Linked DNA regions of Homo sapiens. The protein of the gene in region 4 purifies or fractionates together with the protein of the main gene of each other region. This does not show direct contact. Each region holds a gene or a part of one and is shown on either strand. Other genes may lie near its edges. The genes, in order: AGPAT2, ACKR5, GDPD5, TMEM120B, SERINC1 and METTL9.

The links.
Region 1: the proteins of TMEM120B (region 4) and AGPAT2 purify together in Homo sapiens (co-immunoprecipitation; one large-scale study listed by IntAct). This does not show direct contact.
Region 2: the proteins of TMEM120B (region 4) and ACKR5 purify together in Homo sapiens (co-immunoprecipitation; one large-scale study listed by IntAct). This does not show direct contact.
Region 3: the proteins of TMEM120B (region 4) and GDPD5 purify together in Homo sapiens (co-immunoprecipitation; one large-scale study listed by IntAct). This does not show direct contact.
Region 5: the proteins of TMEM120B (region 4) and SERINC1 purify together in Homo sapiens (affinity purification with mass spectrometry, with the first as the bait; one large-scale study listed by BioGRID). This does not show direct contact.
Region 6: the proteins of TMEM120B (region 4) and METTL9 purify together in Homo sapiens (affinity purification with mass spectrometry, with the first as the bait; one large-scale study listed by BioGRID). This does not show direct contact.

Annotation. Positions count from the first base shown.
Region 1 is NC_000009.12:136,674,859-136,677,683, reverse strand, and holds part of AGPAT2 (1-acyl-sn-glycerol-3-phosphate acyltransferase beta), read left to right. Parts: intron 1-127; coding exon 128-261; intron 262-547; coding exon 548-723; intron 724-1,003; coding exon 1,004-1,099; intron 1,100-2,825. UniProt on the Homo sapiens protein: Converts 1-acyl-sn-glycerol-3-phosphate (lysophosphatidic acid or LPA) into 1,2-diacyl-sn-glycerol-3-phosphate (phosphatidic acid or PA) by incorporating an acyl moiety at the sn-2 position of the glycerol backbone.
Region 2 is NC_000012.12:56,992,689-56,997,291, forward strand, and holds the start of ACKR5 (G-protein coupled receptor 182), read left to right. Parts: upstream 1-1,803; 5' UTR 1,804-1,960; intron 1,961-2,505; 5' UTR 2,506-2,521; coding exon 2,522-3,736; 3' UTR 3,737-4,603. UniProt on the Homo sapiens protein: Orphan receptor.
Region 3 is NC_000011.10:75,436,253-75,439,071, forward strand, and holds part of GDPD5 (glycerophosphodiester phosphodiesterase domain-containing protein 5), read right to left. Parts: intron 797-2,819; coding exon 684-796; intron 1-683. UniProt on the Homo sapiens protein: Glycerophosphodiester phosphodiesterase that promotes neurite formation and drives spinal motor neuron differentiation.
Region 4 is NC_000012.12:121,746,984-121,750,901, reverse strand, and holds part of TMEM120B (transmembrane protein 120B), read right to left. Parts: intron 2,577-3,918; coding exon 2,460-2,576; intron 523-2,459; coding exon 463-522; intron 1-462. UniProt on the Homo sapiens protein: Necessary for efficient adipogenesis. Does not show ion channel activity.
Region 5 is NC_000006.12:122,451,308-122,454,807, forward strand, and holds part of SERINC1 (serine incorporator 1), read right to left. Parts: intron 2,924-3,500; coding exon 2,844-2,923; intron 2,601-2,843; coding exon 2,463-2,600; intron 751-2,462; coding exon 581-750; intron 448-580; coding exon 357-447; intron 1-356.
Region 6 is NC_000016.10:21,602,336-21,606,253, forward strand, and holds part of METTL9 (protein-L-histidine N-pros-methyltransferase isoform 1 precursor), read left to right. Parts: intron 1-3,918. UniProt on the Homo sapiens protein: Protein-histidine N-methyltransferase that specifically catalyzes 1-methylhistidine (pros-methylhistidine) methylation of target proteins.

The DNA.
Region 1 (2,825 bases), on a different chromosome or scaffold from region 4:
CCGGTCTCCTGCCCCGTGCCAGGAGGGCCCCTCCCCAGCCTCCTCCACACCCCACCCCCAGGCCTTCGCGCCCCAGCCTCGGCTGCGGGATCTGTGGGACCCGTGTTCATGGTGGCCTCCCCTGCAGCATCATCGGCTGGTTCGTGCGAAGCTTCAAGTACTTTTACGGGCTCCGCTTCGAGGTGCGGGACCCGCGCAGGCTGCAGGAGGCCCGTCCCTGTGTCATCGTCTCCAACCACCAGAGCATCCTGGACATGATGGGTAGGCCGGGCCTCGGGGGTGGCTTCTGGGGTTTGAGTGGGGCCGGCTGAGCTGGGGCTGTGTGGGGCTGGGTCCCGGGGACGAGGACACAGGGCTGCCTGTGCCTGGGCGAGCTCGGCCTCAGTACCTCCCTCAGGGCCAGACACAGAGGCTCGGAGGCCACACGACCCGTCCAGGTAGCCAGGGAGAAGGCAGGGTGCCAGGCAGGCCTGTGGGTGCTCAGCAGCTGTCTTCCAGCGCACGCTGTCTCCCCCTCTCTCTCTGTCTCTGTCTCTCTGTCTCCCAGGCCTCATGGAGGTCCTTCCGGAGCGCTGCGTGCAGATCGCCAAGCGGGAGCTGCTCTTCCTGGGGCCCGTGGGCCTCATCATGTACCTCGGGGGCGTCTTCTTCATCAACCGGCAGCGCTCTAGCACTGCCATGACAGTGATGGCCGACCTGGGCGAGCGCATGGTCAGGGAGAACGTGAGTGTGCAGGGCCGGGCTCGGTGGGGTTGGGGTGGGGCCTGGGCGGGGCCAGGCAGGGGCCAGCTTGTGACTTGGTTTTGGCAGAAAAAACAAGACCCCCACATCATCCATGCTCCGCAGGTGGGGTCCCACGCCAGACCCCTACATCATCCATGCTCCGCAGATGGGGTCCCATGCCAGCTGCTTTGCGAAGTGGGGCTTCTTAGGAGGCGAGGCGGCGTGGCCTTTCTGGGGTGGCCTGGGCGTGAGGTCAGTCCAGGCTCTCCTCTCCCTGCAGCTCAAAGTGTGGATCTATCCCGAGGGTACTCGCAACGACAATGGGGACCTGCTGCCTTTTAAGAAGGGCGCCTTCTACCTGGCAGTCCAGGCACAGGTAGGCTGAGCCCAGCCCTCCCTGGGTGGGTGCAGGCTGGGGAGGCGGGGTCAGGCTGGCTTAAGGCAGCAGGTGACCACCAGCCGAGCTGAGGACCCTTGACACACAAGGGACTCCTCCCACTGAGTTGGGGACAGGGCCTCCTTGCCCCTTCCTGCACTTGCCCCCTGACCGACCAGGGAGGGCAGCCCCTTGGGCCTTTTGCCCACACAGAGCCCAGAGTGACCAGCTGCCCTTGGTGGGCACCCAGTGCTTGGCCTGCGAGGCTGGGCAGGTAGAGGGGTGGGGAGCCGGGCCGCTCGCCTCTGCTGCAGAGCTCTCAGGAGGCTCATTTCTGGGCCTGTGCCTGGCTGGGGTGGGCTTCAGGGCATGGGCAGTGGGTCTGGACAAGCCAGGCTTTTGGTGTAGTATCAGGCCAGACCAGAGCTCAGGGTGGGTGGAGCTCATTGTAAGCAGCGCCTCCAGACTCTGGACTTCCTGGTCCCCAGCCTCCAGGGGTGCAGTGCATCCTAGGGTGTCTGGGAGAGGCCAGGGTATAGCCATTCCCCCAGCACCTGTCCTGCCTCTGCCGCTGTGCTGGGAAGAGTTGCGTCAGGAGAAGGAGCTTTTACCCATCTGGGTGGGGTCTCGCTCAGGGCAGGGGTCTCAGCTCCTTCCCTCACACTGGCCACTAGTGGCCCCCAGTGCCTGGCCCTGTGCAAGGTGGTGGGGAGGGGGCCCTCCTTCCAGAGGCTCCCAGCTAAGGCCGTGAGGCCTGGGGAGCCCCGGAGGCGCTGGGCTGGGTGAGCATCCTTGGGCTCTGATCCCAGCCCTGCCCAGGTGCGGGGCACACCTGCCCAGCCTGGGGCTGATGTCACTTCCCTTTGGGGGCAGAGTGAGGGCTGGATCAGCTCTGGGAGAGCAGAGGGGAGACGGGCGGCTGTGATGGGGTGGCTGGGGGTGGCCGCAGTGCAGCTTCAGCCAGGAGACCCACAGCTTTTCCGTCCCTGCTCCCGGTCCCCAGCCTACCTGCTGGCCCCCTCCCTCCCTGCTGCCAGTCCCCAGCCTACCTGCTGGCCCCCTCCCTCCCTGCTCCCAGTCCCCAGCCTACCTGCTGGCCTCCTCCCTCCCTGCTGCCAGTCCCCAGCCTACCTGCTGGCCTCCTCCCTTCCTGCTGCCAGTCCCCAGCCTACCTGCTGGCCCCCTCCCTCCCTGCTCCCAGTCCCCAGCCTACCTGCTGGCCCCCTCCCTTCCTGCTGCCAGTCCCCAGCCTACCTGCTGGCCCCCTGGAGGTTCCCTGGCTGCCTCGGGTTAATGATCACCCCCAAGTGCCCTTGGATTTGACCCCGGTGACTTCCAGGAACACCAGCAGGCTCCACCCCTCCCCCGGGCTAGGGCTGCCTCCCTCACTGGCTTCCTGAGATGGAGAGGACTGGGAGAGAGGCGTGGGCAGGGAAGAGTGCCATAATCTCCTCCTAAACCGGACAGGGCCCTGCCCCCCTGGCTAGCTGCAGACCCAATATGGGGACAGGTGTGAACCAGGCAAACACGTGCTAGCTCAGGAGGGCTTCCTAGAGGAGATGAGTAAAAATTTGCAGGATGAGCTTATGGAACTCTGGGCCAACCAGAGCAGGACACATATCCCAGGTCCCAGGGGCAGGACAGCCACAAGGACCCATGGCAGCAGCGAAGGCAGGGGTGGGTGGGCCGCAGGACAGGGCTCCCCAACCACATGCAGCCTGGGGTG
Region 2 (4,603 bases), about 65 Mb from region 4:
TACTGCACCGGCCATGATAGATTTTGTGATCTTGGAGTGATCTGATATGTAAGTGGAAGGTTTAAGAAAACTACAAAACTACAAAATGAAAAATATTCCCTTCCATGGAGATAAATGGTGCTGATGGTTGCACAGCAGTGTAAATGCACTTAGCGCCACTGAATTGTACACTTAAAAATGGTTAACGTGGTAAACCTTACATATATTTTACCATAATAAAAGAATCAGTGAGCAAACTTTTAAAAAATGTTCTCTTTGAGTGGATAAAGAAAATGTGGTGTGTGTGTGTGTATATATATATATATATATATGGGAATATTACTCAGCCATGAAAGGAAATGAAGTACGGATGCATGCTCCAAAGTGAATGAACCTTGAAAACATGCTAAGTGGAAAAAAAAAAACACAGACACTGAATGTCACATATGATATGGTTCCCTTTCTATTAAGTATCCAGAATAGGTAAATCCACAGGGACAGGAAGCAGAAGGTTGGTGGTGGGGGGAATAGGATTGACTGCTTAATGGTTATGGGGTTTTCTTTGCGGGTAATGAAGATGTTTAGCACGTAGACAGAGGTGGTGTTTGCACAATGTGCATGTCTAAATGCCATTAAATCACACATTTTAAAATGGTTAATTTTATGCTATGGGAATTTCACCTCGACTTAATATATACTCAATCCCGTCCAGCCGACACACCTTTGGCTCAGGCCTAGGCCACTCTGCCATCTGCCAAGTGTGGCTTGTGTAACAGACAACTTCTCTGGGCCTCAAAGAGGGTGAAGAAATCCATCCTCCCCACAGGGGTATCTCCAGAATCCAACGAGATGAAGTGAGGTGAAAGCGCTCTGAAGGGCAGGAAGCTCTGCTGACACAAAATGTTTACCCATAACACGTGGCTTAGAGTCCCTTACCCTCTAGCTTGGCGGGAGAGAGAAGTCTGCTCTCCCTACCCCACGCCCCATCCCCTGCTCATCCCCTGCCAGCCACCCACCACACCCTTCACGCAGAGAAGTATAGAGCCACAGGGGGAGGGCGCCATTCTCTCTCTCCCTCCCTACTCAGGAATCTCCCTGAAGCTTTGACAAAGCCCCCTTGACACCCCGCATTCAATCTTATTTTTATTTTTTTTTATTAACTCTGTCACCTAGGCTGGAGTGCAGTGACCTGATCTCAGCTCACTGCAACCTCCGCCTCCTGGGCTCAAGCGATTCTCCTGCCTCAGCCTCTCAAAATGCTGGAATTACAGGCGTGAGCCACCATGCCCAGCCATTCAATCTTTTCTTTCCCAGATTCTCACCTCCAATCACAAGATGAAGGCAGGGAGCTCACAGCCCTGTGAGGGGCTGGGGAGAATGGCAGGGGTGGGCCAGAGTTATTAAAAGCCCAACTGATGTTCAGATTTATTTTGACCCTCCCCTATACCCCCACATCCAATTTCACTCTAGTAGGAATCAAGACAGGGGAGAGAGGGATTCCAAGCTGACTTAGGGAGAGGAAAATACATACATACGTAAAGCATTTGCCACAGGCCCCACCTGAGCTAAGCACTTTCCCTCCCTCAACAGCTCCTTTAATTCTCAAAGCATCCCTTTTAGTAGATAATAGACCCCACTTTGCAGAGGAGAGCACTGAGGCTGAGGAAAGAGGTAAATTCATTCAGCGGGTGAGGGAGGAGCTGGGATTTTAATGCTGGCAGTATGACCTCCCCGCCACTGGCACACCGGGTCTTTTGCTGGGACATCCCCTGTAACCGGATTGGGGGAATGCAGGAAAAACCCCATCCCTCCCTACAGAGCCTCAGCAGTGACAGCTACTTCCCGGATGAGAAGGGCGGCCGTGAAGCCAGCAGGGAAGCCAGCCCCACAGCCAAGGGCCCCCCAGCCTCCTCACAGCTCCCCATAGCCTGGACCTGCCGGCCCTCCCTCCAGGACCGAGGGGCTCCCAAGGGAAACTCAGGTGAGTGTCGCCCTCTCCCAGGGAAGATGGGAATCAGGGCTTGGAGACAACTGGCTATCCTGCATGATCCACAGGTTTTCCTAGGGATGAATCAGATTGTGTGGTGTGCGTGTGTGTGTGTGTGTTCCACACTCACGGTCCAAATAACAAGACAGAAAAAGAGCAATAAAGATCTGTGCAAAAGGGCTGAGGAATGAAGTGCCAGGAGAGAGGTGGAGGTTGGAGACCACCTAGGAATGGTGGGTGTGGGGGGATTGAGGGGGTTGTTGAGGGGGAACTGGCTGGGGGTGGGGAGAAATGTTGGTGGACACCAACAGTCCTGGCCTCTTCCAGCTGAAACCCCTTAAGAAAGTATCTCTGCTCTTGGGTCAGAGCTAGCAAGTGAGTTGTGTATTATTTATTCACAGTTTGAAAGCTAAACTTCCCTTTCTTGCCTTAGCCCCAGAATCTTTCCCCAAAGCCCCCGACTCCCTCTGGCCTCTACCTTGAGGACACAAGGCTCTCGAGGTCTGCTTTCCCTTCCAACCCTCCCTTCATCCCAATAGGCGTGTGCTGGTCCCAATGTCAGTGAAACCCAGCTGGGGGCCTGGCCCCTCGGAGGGGGTCACCGCAGTGCCTACCAGTGACCTTGGAGAGATCCACAACTGGACCGAGCTGCTTGACCTCTTCAACCACACTTTGTCTGAGTGCCACGTGGAGCTCAGCCAGAGCACCAAGCGCGTGGTCCTCTTTGCCCTCTACCTGGCCATGTTTGTGGTTGGGCTGGTGGAGAACCTCCTGGTGATATGCGTCAACTGGCGCGGCTCAGGCCGGGCAGGGCTGATGAACCTCTACATCCTCAACATGGCCATCGCGGACCTGGGCATTGTCCTGTCTCTGCCCGTGTGGATGCTGGAGGTCACGCTGGACTACACCTGGCTCTGGGGCAGCTTCTCCTGCCGCTTCACTCACTACTTCTACTTTGTCAACATGTATAGCAGCATCTTCTTCCTGGTGTGCCTCAGTGTCGACCGCTATGTCACCCTCACCAGCGCCTCCCCCTCCTGGCAGCGTTACCAGCACCGAGTGCGGCGGGCCATGTGTGCAGGCATCTGGGTCCTCTCGGCCATCATCCCGCTGCCTGAGGTGGTCCACATCCAGCTGGTGGAGGGCCCTGAGCCCATGTGCCTCTTCATGGCACCTTTTGAAACGTACAGCACCTGGGCCCTGGCGGTGGCCCTGTCCACCACCATCCTGGGCTTCCTGCTGCCCTTCCCTCTCATCACAGTCTTCAATGTGCTGACAGCCTGCCGGCTGCGGCAGCCAGGACAACCCAAGAGCCGGCGCCACTGCCTGCTGCTGTGCGCCTACGTGGCCGTCTTTGTCATGTGCTGGCTGCCCTATCATGTGACCCTGCTGCTGCTCACACTGCATGGGACCCACATCTCCCTCCACTGCCACCTGGTCCACCTGCTCTACTTCTTCTATGATGTCATTGACTGCTTCTCCATGCTGCACTGTGTCATCAACCCCATCCTTTACAACTTTCTCAGCCCACACTTCCGGGGCCGGCTCCTGAATGCTGTAGTCCATTACCTTCCTAAGGACCAGACCAAGGCGGGCACATGCGCCTCCTCTTCCTCCTGTTCCACCCAGCATTCCATCATCATCACCAAGGGTGATAGCCAGCCTGCTGCAGCAGCCCCCCACCCTGAGCCAAGCCTGAGCTTTCAGGCACACCATTTGCTTCCAAATACTTCCCCCATCTCTCCCACTCAGCCTCTTACACCCAGCTGAGGTAGAGGCCAGACTCCTCCAACAGTGAAGGAAAAGGCACAGGTGAGAGTATAGGTGGGAGATTTGGGGGGATGTAGAGGGGAGGGTCAAAGCACTCGTGGTCAATTTTGAATCTATCTTAAAATACTGAGGTGTGGAGAGAGAGACAGGATCAGGAGCGATAGAGAGCAGGCCCTCAGTGTTGTACTATTTGTCTCGGTCCTTGTGTCTAAGGAGCAATGCAGAAAAAAAGGTGAAATAAATGGAAGAGATAGCCATGGACTCTGGATCTTTTAAAAATCTGCACTTCCAGCTGGGATTGGGAAGGGAGCTGAGGCTAAAGAGGTGCTCGGCAGAGGAAACTAGACACATTCATTTCATAAATCACTCTGGCTGGAAACAGTGAACTCTGCAGGAACCTCACAAAACTCCTTTTGCGTTTGTGAGCTTGTTGATCTTCCAGCTCACTATGCAGGTTATGGGGACAAGAGGCCAGAGGCCAAGGAACCAGGCGGCCCCAGCAGGACGTTCCCTAGCTGTGCATCCTATGCACAGCCATGATAAGTGAAGGCGGATGGGGATGGCAGGGGTGGGGGCGAAGCCAAGGTCTGAGACCTGCACCCTGCAGCTGGGTCAGCAGGATGGTATCTCCACCCGCGGCCATCCAGGAAACACAGCTCCATTTCCTTGCTGACACCCTCCCCTCCCCGTTGTCCATCCTGCTCCCTCCCCACAAGCAAGAGGAGTTGTCCCAGAGTCAGCTCCTCATAGCTGACCTCTTACCAGCTTCGGATCTAGGAAACTTCCAGACTTCTAGGGAGACACAGAGCTACCAGAAAGCCCAACCCACCCCCATCTCTTTCTCTCCAGATCATAGGAAAGTATCAA
Region 3 (2,819 bases), on a different chromosome or scaffold from region 4:
TATAGAGGGACACTTCATTCTTGGTGCCCAGGCAAGCGGTGCTCCCTTGCCACCTCTGCACACATGCCGTGCCCACCTGGAATGCCCTTCCTTCCCTCAGCTCACTCGGCCCTCATCTTGAAGCCATTACCAAAGCACCTCCTCTGCATCCTCCCCATCTCAGTGTATCAGGCGCCCAAAGCCTTCCTCACTGCCCAGGCAGCTCTGACCACGTCCTCCCGCCCCCCGCCCGGCACTCCCATCGCAGGAACTCGACTTTCCCTGCCACTGTTTATATACGTAGCTGCTGCTTCCATCAGACTGGGAATGTTGACAGGGACTGGCAAAGAGCAAGGGTGAGGCCAACATTGTAGGATCCAAGTACGAACCAGGCAAAGGGGGATGGGCCTTCAAAACAGACTCCTCTCCCTACCCCACCCCTGCCCACCAACCATGGCACTGACACCAAGCCATGGTGGATGACAGGGTGGATGACTGTGTGTGTGGGGGTGTGTGTTTTCACACGTGTACTTATGCCTTTGTATGTCTGTGGGTATAATCCCGGTGGGTTTATGTACGTCTGTGCCCTTGTCCCTACCCATATGTGCCACATGTGAATGTGTGTGCATACACATCTGTTTGCATGTGGGGGTGCAGAAAGCTGGGCCCAGGGCCTGCCTCCACCTGTCTGCAGGGCTGTGTACCTGAGAAAATAAGCTTCTCCTTCATGATGCTGACGTCCCGGCTGGTCCGGCGCACCGCAGCACTCAGCATGATCTGCTCAGGGTTGTAGCTCCGTATGCCACCCAGGCGCCACCTGCAGAGATGGCCCCGTGGGCATCAGGTCTCTCCTCAGCCCTCCCTTGGAGCAGAGACCCTGCCTACTTCCAGAGCCTCTCTGGATGTGGCCCAAGAGACCAGCAGGACTCTTGTCCCACTGTACAATGGGGAAATAGGCCCAGAGAGGGCAGAGTTGGGGCTTGAATCAGAGCCTACTGACTCTCGGCCAGGGCTCCCTGGCCTCCCTCTTACCTCCAGAGCCGCCAGTCAGCAGCCCTGGCCCAGGACTAGGGTTGGTTAGTTCTGTCTCAGGTGTCCCCAGTAATGCACCTGGCTCTCTTTGAATGGGACAGATTTGGGAGCAGGAGGAGCTTAGTAGGCACGACTCTGTTGACCTAAGCTGGGGCACACACCAATCTCAGGGAGTCCCAGCTGATGTCTCTTATAGCTCCACCATCATGACCAGACTAAGTGAAGCCATTGGGGAGACCCCTTGAGAGGGAGGGAAGGAAAGCAGGGGGGTGGGGCCAGGTGGTAGGGGGCTTTGCCCAGAGCTGGTCTGCACAGGTTCCCAAGGCAAGGGGGTTAGAGTGACTTGGAGTGGGGCCAACTGCTGCTCTGTCCTGGCAGTCCTAATGCGGAGGGAGGTCAGAGCATGAATCCCTCTGATGGCTGAGACAGGTGCAAGGTGGGGGTAAAATTACTCAAGAGTGGGCTGGGAGGTGGAGCATGCACAGGGCATGAAGGGACCAGGCACTAAGTGGAAAGGACTCAGGTTTCTGTGCCCAGCCCAGGCCACTGTCTTCACTATTGTCATTCCTCTGAACTAGCCCCAGTCCCTGGCCTCTGAACTTAGACCTTTCCTGGGATCTAGGCAGAAGGATCACTGGACTCTCACCCCTGTCCCCACCAGGAGGAGGGGGTGATCAACTTGGGAACAAGAACCCAACTGCCTCAGGGACTGAACCCTGCTTGGGGGATGGAGAGAGCCAAGACTCCACAAGAAACCAACTGTGAGTTACTAGATGGGGTCAGCGCAGCAGAAGTGGACAGACAGATGGACAGGCGGATGGATGGATGAACAGAGCAGGCAGACAAGGGGAAAGCAGGAGGCGGGGGGTGGCACGGACACCCTGGCGAGGCTGGCTGCCCTATGAATCATTGAGGGCAGTGAGCAAATCTCTCTCTGTTCATCGCTGTGCCCCAGTACCATCAGTGCCTGCCGTGTCCCGGGAGCCTGACCTGTACTTGTTGAGTGAATGAATGGAAGAATAAGGCCCACAGGGAAAGAGTATCCTCCCCCGGCCTTGTCCCCCAGGGTACCTTCCTCCACCAGGCCTCTCCTGATCCCCAGGAGACAATGACACTGCCCTGGCTGTGTCTGAGCAGACCCAGCGTGTCTGTGCCAGCCACTGAATCACCATGGGGTGGCCTCCCCAGCACCCTGGGGCTCCATGTGAGAAGGCCCAACTCCTGCTGCAGACAGCATCAGCAACCAGTGTATGTGGATGTTGGTCAACTGGGCGGACACAGGAATGACTCAAGGAATGTCCCATAGCCAGGGACAGCATCTCCTCCTAGAAGCTGATTGGTGAAGCTGCCTGACCCAGGAGGGGCTAAGGCACTAGACGGAGGGAGACGTGGGTCCCTAAGCTCTAGGTCCCATCCTGGAAATTCATGTTGAAACCCAGAAGGACAGTGTCAGGCCAGGGTCTCTCGGCCAGGCATATCCAGAACAGGAAGCTCAGCCACTGTGGGGTCCTCTGAGGGGAATGAGGAAAAGGCTGTGTGTTGCGGGGAGCAAAGCAGGGATGGGTGTTAGAGATAGAATGTAAAGAAGAGAGAGAAAGAGATGGGAGAGGCAGAGAAAGGTAAACAGGAAGAGTGAACAGTGGGAGAGGCAGAGCCAGGGAGGGAGAAGATGGGAAGAGAGAGGCAGAAACTTGGTAGGGTCTGCCCTGGGCAAGTGGTGAAGGCCCCTGTAAGTGCCAGAGGCAGGGGGATGGGGGTACCCAGGCAGGGTCCCCTCCCCCAGGGAGACACTTTGGTGCAGAGAGGGG
Region 4 (3,918 bases):
GGTGTGGGATGTGGGGTGTGGTGTGTGGTGTGGGTGTGGGGTGTGGGTATGGGGTGTGGAGTGTGGTGTGTGGTGTTGGTGTGGGGTGTTGTGTATGGGGTGTGGGGTGTAGGTGTGGCTGTAAGGTGTGGAGTGTGAGTGTGGAGTGTGGGGTGTGAGTATGGGGTGTGGGTGTAGGGTGTGGGTGGGGTGTTGGCATGGGGTGTGGGTTTTGAGTGTGTGGTGTGGGGTGTGGGTGTGGGTGTGGGTGTGGGTTCGCAGTGTGGGGTGTGGGTGTGGTGTTGGTGTTGGTGTTGGTGTGGGTGGGGTGTTGGTGTGGAGTGTGGGTGTGGGTTTGAGGTGTGGGGTGTTGGTGTGGGTGTGGATGTGGGGTGTGGGTTCTCAGTGTGGGGTTTGGGGTGTGGGTGTGGGTGTGGGGGCGGTGTGAGGTGTGGGTCTGGGTGGTGGGTGGGGGACACTTACTTGGCCTGGTTGCTGAGGAGGGTCACGTTCACATTGCCGAGGACCAGGTTCAAGTAGAGCCTGGAAGGAAACACCTGTGAGGGGCATGATCCTTAGCAGGTGGGTGCGAATCAACAACATTCAAACTCAACACACTTAATGAGCACATCCCAAGCACTGATGTTAGAAGATAGGGGGCCTAAGCTCAGCGGGCAAATGGGCCCCCACATCGAGTGAGAATGACAACTAACCAAAGGACATTAACCTGTGACAGGACAGTGTGAGGAGTCGATTTCTCCTCCATGCTACCCTAGAGACCGTATTTCTAAGCCTGCCTTGCAGCCAGATGTGAGCAGGTGACTAAGCATAGCCAATGAGGTGGAGGCAAAGGTACAACCTCTAGGTCAATTTTTAAAGAATTTTCTTTATTTTTCATTATTATTATTATTATCATTGTTATTATTTTTAGAGACAGGGTCTCACTCTGTTGCCCAGGCTAGAGTGCAATGGTATGATCATAGCTCACTGCAGTGTTTTTTGTTTTTTTTTTTTTTTGAGACAGAGTCTCGGTCTGTCACCCAGACTGGACTGCAGTGGCACGATCAGGACTCGCTATAACCTCCACCTCCTGGGTTCAAGCAATTCTGCTGCCTCAGCCTCCCAAGTAGCTGGGATTACAGGCACGTGCCACCAGGCCAGCTAATTTTTGTATTTTTAGTAGGTTTAGGGGTTTCACCATGTTGGCCAGGCTGGTCTTGAACTCCTAACCTTAAGTGATCCACCTGCCTCCGTCTCCCAAAGTGCTGGGATTACAGGCATGAGCCACTGTGCCCAGCGTCACTGCAGTCTTGAACCTCTAGGCTCAAGTAGTCCTCCCACCTCAGTCGCCAAAGTAGCTGGGATTATGGGTACACACCAGCACACCAATTTTGTTAAAGTTTTGTAGAGATGTGGTCTCACAATGTTGTCCAGGCTGGTCTTGAATTCCTGGGCTCAAGTGATCCTCCCACCTCGGCCTCCCGAAGTGCTGGGATGACAGGCACAAGCCACCGCGCCCGGCCTTGAGTTGGGTTTTCTATCGTTTGCAATCCAAAGATTCCCAACTGAGGTTAAGAGGCACAGAGGCCTAGGGACAGAGGGGCAGGAAGGCAGACACGCATGACACTGTAAGAGGGTCACGAATGCTAGGCTGCTGCTCATTCTGCAGAAAATGATCATCACTTAACTCATGGGGTCTATTCGAACACAGTCAAAAAGGAGAAGCTCGGAGGAATGGGTTAAAATATAACAGGGCTAGCCAGCTCCCTCCCACCCGCTACAGGCCTGAAAGGAGCCCCTCCTCCTAATGCACGGCTCTGACTCAGCGCGAGGCTGATCCGGAAAACAGGGTCAGGGTGAACTGACTGTGCTCAGCAGCGTTAAGTCAGGTCATGATGATATGAGGCTGTAAGCAGCTCTCTCTCTCCAGAACAAGGTGGCAATGACATCACTTAAGGGAGGGAACGGGGACTTCTCTGAAGGGGGAAAATACAAAGAACGTGGGCTTTGGAGTCAGAATGTCTGCTGTTCACATCCTGGTGTGGCCAAACATTCGCTGATGTCTCTGAATCTTGTAAAAATGGGCATCTCTTGGTCTGACGCACAGATTGTTGAGGATAAACCAGGTGACATCACAGGAGGTCCCGGCACAGCTCTGAGCGTGCAGGAGGCACGCAATGCATGTTTGTTCTCCTGGGAGAGGACAGTTTCCCTCTTAACCCCAGGTGTCAGCAGGCATGCAGTGAGTGCTGGTTCCTTGCAACGGACCTCCCAGGAATGCTGCTGTCACACGGTGTGGCTAAGGTCCCCTCCTGGGCTCATGGAGGAATGTGTAAGGAAGGCTCCTTATCTCTCCTGCCCTTGTTTCCCTCTTTCCCCTTCAATCTGAGCACCAGCAGGAAGGCGAGAGTTATATGGACCAGCTGTGCTAGGCCTGGGCATGGGCCTGTGCTAGGGGTGGGGAGGTTGCCAGCTCCTACCCGTTCTTCTTGGGCAGGTAGGCCTCCATGTCGAAGAAGACGTCCTGCCGCTCCTTGATGTTCGCTGCCATCTGCTGAACGAGCTCCGCCTCCTCCCGACTGGCATGGCGTTTGCACCTGCGGACAGAGATGCAGGCACAGGGGAAGGGGCGTCACTCAGAGGGAGGAGGGCTATGGACTCCCCGGGCCCCAGCCTCCCACCTTCTACCCCAGTGCCTCCTACCTTCTACCCCAGCCTCCCACCTTCTACCCCAGCCTCCCACCTTCTACCCCAGTGCCTCCCACCTTCTACCCCAGCCTCCCACCTTCTACCCCAGCCTCCCACCTTCTACCCCAGCCTCCCACCTTCTACCCCAGTGCCTCCCACCTTCTACCCCAGCCTCCCACCTTCTACCCCAGTGCCTCCCACCTTCTACCCCAGCCTCCCACCTTCTACCCCAGTGCCTCCCACCTTCTACCCCAGCCTCCCACCTTCTACCCCAGTGCCTCCCACCTTCTACCCCAGCCTCCCACCTTCTACCCCAGTGCCTCCCACCTTCTACCCCAGCCTCCCACCTTCTACCCCAGTGCCTCCCACCTTCTACCCCAGCCTCCCGCCTTCTACCCCAGCCTCCCGCCTTCTACCCCAGCCTCCCGCCTTCTACCCCAGCCTCCCGCCTTCTACCCCAGCCTCCCGCCTTCTACCCCAGCCTCCCGCCTTCTACCCCAGCCTCCCGCCTTCTACCCCAGCCTCCCGCCTTCTACCCCAGCCTCCCGCCTTCTACCCCAGCCTCCCGCCTTCTACCCCAGCCTCCCGCCTTCTACCCCAGCCTCCCGCCTTCTACCCCAGCCTCCCGCCTTCTACCCCAGCCTCCCGCCTTCTACCCCAGTGCCTCCCGCCTTCTACCCCAGCCTCCCGCCTTCTACCCCAGCCTCCCGCCTTCTACCCCAGCCTCCCGCCTTCTACCCCAGCCTCCCGCCTTCTACCCCAGCCTCCCGCCTTCTACCCCAGCCTCCCGCCTTCTACCCCAGCCTCCCGCCTTCTACCCCAGCCTCCCGCCTTCTACCCCAGCCTCCCGCCTTCTACCCCAGCCTCCCGCCTTCTACCCCAGCCTCCCGCCTTTTACCCCAGCCTCCCGCCTTCTACCCCAGTGCCTCCCGCCTTCTACCCCAGCCTCCCGCCTTCTACCCCAGCCTCCCACCTTCTACCCCAGTGCCTCTCGCAACCGCAGTTCCCCATCTCAACTCTCGGGGTTGGAGGAGTGATGCTGCCTCCCAGGTAGTCTTGTGACTTTCAGAAAGTCCTTAAACCTCTCTGCCTTATTTTCCATACCTGAAAAGCCGGGATAACCTCAAGCCTACCTCACAGACAATAGCCTGGTGAGGATTAAATGAGTAAGTACAGCATAGAGCATCTAGAATAATACTTGATAGTATGAGCTCAAGGGATAATTACTGACAATACTATTTTTCTTCTCAT
Region 5 (3,500 bases), on a different chromosome or scaffold from region 4:
AATGTACATTGTTTTTCTAGACATAATGCTATGGCACACAACAGACTAGTGTAAGATAAACAAAAGTTTTATATGCACTGGGAAACCAAAAAATCATGCTTTACTGTGATGCTTGTTTCATTGTGGTGCTCTGAAACTGAACTCACAGTTTCTCTTAGGTATACATGTAACCTTCTTATAATTTTGTTAGTGATGGAAGAAACTAAGTGAAATAAATAATACATCAAAGATCAAAACTTTGTACTTTATTCCTCTAGAAGCCTAATTTTTAAGTAATTTAATCTCACAAAAAGACAATTTCTGGAAAAACAACAACTGCAGAACCTTTAGGAACATGTAATATAAATAAAACACACCTGGTTCATTGGTCATAGCTGACCATGTCAAATACATTGTGTAGACTGTAATTACTGAAGACTGTAACAAACCAGATCTTGGTTGTGATTCCTACAAAAAAAAAAAAAAAAAAATATATATATATATATATAGCAACACAGGTAAATAGTCTGACATCATTCTAGATTTTTGAAAACTTAAAAAGGTATAAGCTTCATAAAAACTAATGCTTTAAAGGGCATACTTGGATTTTTGGCAGTATAGACATTACAGAAGCACCAACGCAGAGGAGCATGTTGACACTGATGAACGCCTTGTTTTCTGAACAACTGGCTGGATGAGTGTAGTAGACAAAGAACAGGACGATAGCAACTAAAGACAGCAGATAATTCAGAGCTGTAGCTGATAACAAGGCTGTGAAAGAAATATAATTGGATAATTAGCTTTTTATCAGAAATTATTAGCAATTAGAAATGGGACCTGTTTTATAAACAATCTGTCATTTTGTCAAAAAATATATTTTAAGCAACTAACATTGTCAGCATTATAAAGGCTATAAAAGCAGGAAAGAAAATTAATTCTGACCTTTATTGCTGAAGAATTCTAGTTTTTACACATAGCTATTATGTATTTGCAAGGATGGCAAGTTAGTAAGAAACTAATAGGATTTAATACTAATATCTATATTAGAGTTTACAAACTATGTTTACATGTTAGCCATTATTTTCAAAATAAAGAAAAATAACTATAAGAGGAATATTACTTAAGGTTTTTAAAGAACCATTATCACTCAGTTGTAAACAAGGGCATTAAGAAAATTATTTTCATTATTAATGTTAAGCCCTCACAACAATGATGCTTTTCCTCATGAACTAAAATCTTAAAAGATACATATTATGCAAGGGTAAGTCATTATTTAATAAGTCAACCTATGCTTTTTCTATGTAAATTTCAACATACACAAGTTGTTTAGCCTTTATGCTAATATGTGCCTAATATACAAGTATTTATGTAGATTTGCCTCGCTGACAGGGGATCCATCCAACAAATATTTATTGAATGCCTGCATTCCAGGCCCTGGGGATACAGCAGGGAACAAAAGACACAGAAACCCTTGCATTAGACTTTGCATTTAGAGAACAAGGTATTCAATGTAAGTGAAATTTCCAAATGACTAAAGCTTATTTCTTTGAGCACCAAATTATTTTAACTTGAACCACTGAGATAAAACACCACAAATTAGTTGTGTGAGAGGAATATTAGGCCAGCAGACACACTGGATTTGGCTTGCACTCCAATTTAAAATTTTTTTAGCTGAAACTCAGTCATTTAGCATGAAAATCCAGATTTATGACTTCTTTTGAAAAACATTAGAAAAATCAAGCAATACTAAGTTCACATTCCCACAAGGCAACTAATAAATGGAGCTGAGCAGTAGTAATGCACTTTAGATGGGGCATTCATACTCTCCAATTCATTGTAGTCTATTTGCACAAAGCTTATGCACTTAAACTCTGTCCTCCTGTTCCCTCATTTTTGTTACCTGGTTTGGCCCTGTAAGCATTTGAATTGGGATATCTGTTTTCAAGTATAACCCCAAAGGACTCAACATCATCATTATAAATAATCATTAATTACATTACTATAGGAATTCCTTTAGTTGTTATTGATGCACATAAAAGCATCCTTTGCACTTGAATAAAACATCCGAGTTGCTTTTTATATTTTTTATTTGCTGCTGTTTATGAATTGTATCACTGTGTGTTTATCTATTCCTAGCAATCCTCTTCCCTTTAATATTTTGCTTTTAACCCATTGTAGGCTAGAAAATTAGGCTATAAAGTGCACATGCTTTCAGTAATATGCTTTGGAACATTTATTTTAGCTATTCAGGTTCTTTTGGATTCTTTCCTGGTTCTTGGGTTATGTTCCCAGTTAATCTGCTAAAAGATCTGCTCACCAAGTTGCTGATACAATGTGATATTTTGACACTCACAAAGTTTAAATTAAAAACCTCATCATAGGAAAGTAGACCATAAAAATCCTAAGTGATTTACCTAGTCTACATATCTATTCTCGACTTCAAAGTTCAACTATACTGAAGTTGTTCTGCGACGAAAGCTTACCTGCATACCAACATCTCGAGTTCCCTTCTTCCATTTTTTCAACCCACGATTCATTCCATGAATGTGCAAAATCAATAAGTAAGACTAGTTGTATGAGGATGAAACAAAAGGCACCTGCCATGCCTACATAAAACCACACTGAAAGGGAAAGAAAGCATACATAAGTGATTGGTTAGTTTGATTTTTATCATTTCCTTTCAAAATCACAGTACACAAAAAGGAAAATAAAATTTTATATGAACATCTTGATTTTGCCAACTGGGGAAACACACACACACACACCCCCAAACAAAAAGACAAACAATTATAGTTCCAGGTGACAATTATTTCAGATTCCTTTATAAAATATCAATGTCAAACAACTTAAAAAGGATTTCTTACCAGTTGTAAAAGTTCCTTCTGGAATGAAGAATGCCCCAATAATAATTGCAATTGCTGCAGCAAATTTAAAGAACCAAAATCTAAAACAAAAAGAAATATAATTTTTTATTAATAGACATTCATCAAATAATTTCATATATGAAATCATTTAACTGCATCTTAACAAATAGCTACACTTTATGTGAATGTTCTACTTCTTTCTGAGGATATTATGATCTGGAGTGTAGCCATATTTGTAACTACAAAACAAGGTAATCATCATATTTAGATAACATAGTTTGGAGAGAGAGTGAAATTAACCATTACCATGAACCCAAGCTTATATTATAGATCTTTCCAATTGGAAAAAACAAAGCAAAAAAAATCTGATAAGAAAGGCAAGTCAACATGTGAAAGGAATGGATTAAAGCCCAGACCACGCTAGAGGAAGCATCAGAGCAAATGGCTGGAAAAGAAAGGGAAATGATAAGACATTTTGGGGACTACTGGACACTGGCTCTGAGCTGACATTGATTCCAGGGGACCCAAAACAACATTGTGGTCCCCCAGTTAAAGTAGGCGCTTATGGAGATCATTGGGTCACTCCACCAGGAAAAAAACCACGACCTGCTGAGTTGCTTGCTGAAGGCAAAGGGAATACACAATGGGTAGCAGAAG
Region 6 (3,918 bases), on a different chromosome or scaffold from region 4:
TGTTAGTATAGTTTGGAGAGGCAAGGCTCCTTTGGGCTAAAGCTGCTCTAAAACTGTAGTAGCAGTGCCATTTTAGTAACTTGGTTTGGTGTGCTAGCTTCAAAACTGGGATTATGTTTCACTTTGGGCAAGCAAGAAGCAGGGTTTCACTTAGAGCAGGGAAGTGGCTGGGAGGCCAGACTGGTCTCACAGACTTATTTTACAGCCTATGAAATAAGAATAGTTTTATATTTTTAAATGGTTACCAAGAAAATATCAAAATAACATTTTGTAATACATGAAGTTTCATTTATGGAATTCAAATTTATTTCAGTGTCTACAAATAAAGTGTTTTTTTTTTGAGATGGAGTCTCGCTTCGTCACCCAGGCTGGAGCGCAGTGGCCCAATTTTGGTTCACTGCAACCTCTGCCTCCCAGGTTCAAGCAATTCTGATGTCTCAGCCTCCCGAGTAGCTGGGATTACAGGTGAACACCACCACGCCCAGATAATTTTTGTAGTTTTCAGTAGAGATGGGGTTTCACTATGTTGGTTAGGCTGGTCTCAAACTCCTGACCTCAAGTGATCCTTCTTCCTGGGCCTCCCAAAGTGCTGGGATTACAGGCGTGAGGTACTACACCCAGCCCACAAATAAAGTTTTATTGAAAGAGAACTACCACATTCATTTACCTGTGGTCTATGAGCTCCCTGGCTACAATAGCAGCATATTTGCTACTGTATGGCCTGCAAGCCTAAAACATTTACTACGTGGCTTCTTACAGAATAAAGACTTTTTCCAAGAGAAATTCCCAGCTTCCTTAACAAACAGCTTTTTTTTTTTTTTGGAGACAGGGTCTCACTGTGTCACCCAGGCTGGAGTGTAGTGGCACAATCTCAGCTCACTGCATCCTCGACCTCCTGGGTTCAAGCGGTTCTCATGCCTCAGCCTCTCCATAGCTGGGATTACAGGCACGTGCCAGCACACCTGGTTAATTTTTGTAGTTTTAGTAGAGACAGGGCTTCACCATGTTGGCCAGGCTGGTCTTGAACTCCTGGCCTCAAGTGATCTTCCCACATCGGCTTCCCAAAGTGCTGGAATTACAGGAGTGAGCCACTGCAACCAGCCTCCAACAGCATATTCTTAATCACAGGTTGCAGGGTGGGTAGATTGACTCACTGGGAAGAAATAGAGGCAGGCAGTGAGAAACTAGTAGATATTGTCACTTTGCAATGTTGGCAGACTCAGAATTTAAAAAGACAACAACAAAAAACTTAGGATCTATTCTTTTTGATGCATTGCACCTAGTGCTTAAAGTTAATGCAACTATTATGGAGCTACTGAAACTTTGAAAGGACCCTTAGGCCCCAGGTTCTTGGTAATAATAGCGGTTCAGTAGCTTCTCAATTGATGGAGTGAAAAAATTGTTATAGAACTCGCTGAACCAAACCACAACGATTTCTCCGGGTGACATACTGCAAGGTTTTTTAAAAGCACAGATAACATTCAATATCTGGAATTATTAAGTTGTAACTTAAAATTGCAAGTATGTGTATATTTTTGTGACTTATTTTTTCACTTTCTTATATAAGCTCAGAACTGCGCTATGCCACAAGTGATGAAGAATTCAAGAAAGAATTAAAATCCTTTTTTTTCCCCCAAATGAAAAAATACTTGGACAGCATAGCCAGAGCCAAACACTGTGCTAAAGGACAGAGTGTTTCCTGTCCCTTTACCCCTCACTTACCCTGTGGAGGCAGACTGGAGTCAGGCATGAGTTAACAATGCTTCAAGGATAGTCAGCCAGCTAAGCCGGACAGACACTGATGGATTGGCGTCCTTCTCTGAACTGCCTTCGAGAGTCTGGAGGCCTTTGCAGCTGAATACCAAAGAGACTTCAGAAAGGATTTCTTTGCTTCCTCATAATCTGTGTTGAAACCCCAAGTGTTTGCTTCAGTTTCACAGAACACTAGAATCTCTTTCTTGTGCTGGATATACCAGGAGTCTTTATGTTTCTCTTTGAAGGTGCCCTAGAAGACCCTAATAGCTTCCAGTAAAAAGCTCTGTTGTGTAGACCCTCTGAAGCTTTGTTAAAATTTTAGGATTATCCTGTCCTATGGGGAGTGAGTATTTAGTATTTGCAATGAGGATTGCCAGTAATTGGTTATTAAATCAAAGCTGAAGCCATTTAATCTGTTTTAATTGATTCCCCTCATGGATATGAGGGTGCCTGTCACTGTACACATTGAAATCTCACATAAAGAGGTTATTGGGTTGAGTTTATATTGTTTGTGGGAAAATGGTGAATGGTCTGAATATTTACGCCTATGCTGTGCTTAAATGCAAGGTGTGCATGGTGAAATGTCTGGACTGAGTTGACTGCATTGTAAAATCTTAGAATGTGAATTTTGAATCCTTAGCTGTCAAGCTCTGTTGATGGAGTTGGTCTGGCCAACTTAGAAAAGATTCTGTGTTCATAGATCCTGAGCAGTGGAGCTTTTCTGATTGTTTTTGGTAGCCCTGAATGCCTTGGGTCTTTGATTACCCATTTCTTTTGAGAATGGCTGGATGCCTAGACCTACAGTTTGGTTTTTAGGCATTCCCTTGAACTGTACTTCTCCTCTGACCAGCCCTTGCCTTGGAGAGAAAGGGGAAGGAAATATGAAGAGCTACTGGCCTTCTATTGTGTGCCAGGCACTTCAAATATATTATCCCCAGTAGTCCACATAGAACTCTTGGAGGTTGGTGGTATCATCCGCACTTTACATACAGAAAAGTGAGGGTGAGAGAGAGAAGAGACTTGCTCACCAGCACAGAGTTAATGGATGATAGAGTTGGGCTTTGCACCCAGCTTTGGTTTCAAGGCAACACATTTTCTGCTGCTTTATGATGCCCCTCCTGGTAAACCTTGTGTTGTCTGAGGGGTGGTAAAAATAGGCTTGCCTTCTTTTTTTTTTTTTTTTTTTTTTTTTTTTTTTTTTTTTTTGAGAAACAAGTTCTTACTCTGTCACCCAAGTTGGAATGCAGTGGCCTGATCATATCTCACTGCAGCCTCAAACTCCTGGCCTCAGTACATCCTCCTGCCTCGGCCTCCTGAGTAGCTTCTAAATCTTTTGTAGAGGCAGGGTCTTGCCATGTTGTTCAGGCTGGTCTCAAACTCCTGGCCTCAAGCAGTCCTCCTGCCTCAGTCTCCCAAAGTGCTGGGATTACAGGCGTGAGCCACTGCTCCTGGCCTAGGCTTGCCTTCTGAATAGGAAACTGCCCTCATTCTAGTGAGGCCTCTGTGTAGACACTGAAGTTAGGTAGCTGTGTGCACAATACTTGTTGAAGATTTTGTAGTTTGTGAATTAGATGAGAATAAGACAGCTGCTTGAAGTTCTGGCCTTTATCTGGTTTGTGCATGCTTTTTTTAAGGCTTAAAGTTGAAAAAAGATTCTTACATGTATTGTCATTTTTTCCTGACATCAGCCATTCTCTAATTTTCCATCACCAAGTGGGTGTTTAATTGTTCAATCCTGTTCTGACATTAACTACCTGGAGTTAGGGTCACGCTTTACAGAGTTAAGAGCTCAGTCCCACAAGACTGCCCTCACTTCAGAGGCCAGCTGGAAGTCCTGGGTTCCCAGGCTGCCAGTGCTTTTGTCCACCTTGAACAAATTTGGGAGTTCCCACAACTCTACCTTCACCCTACCCCACCCCACCCCCTAATTTCCTATAATAGAATGACTCATAGAACTTAGGAAAACACAGGTGCGGTGGCTCACGCCTGTAATCCCGGCACTATGGGAGGCTGAGGTGGGTGGATCACGAGGTCAGGAGATCAAGACCATCCCGGCTAACAGGGTGAAACCTGGTCTCTACTAAAAATACAAAAAAATTAGCTGGGCGTGGTGGCACGTGCCTGTAATCCCAGCTACTGGGGAGGCTGAGGCAGGAGAATCGC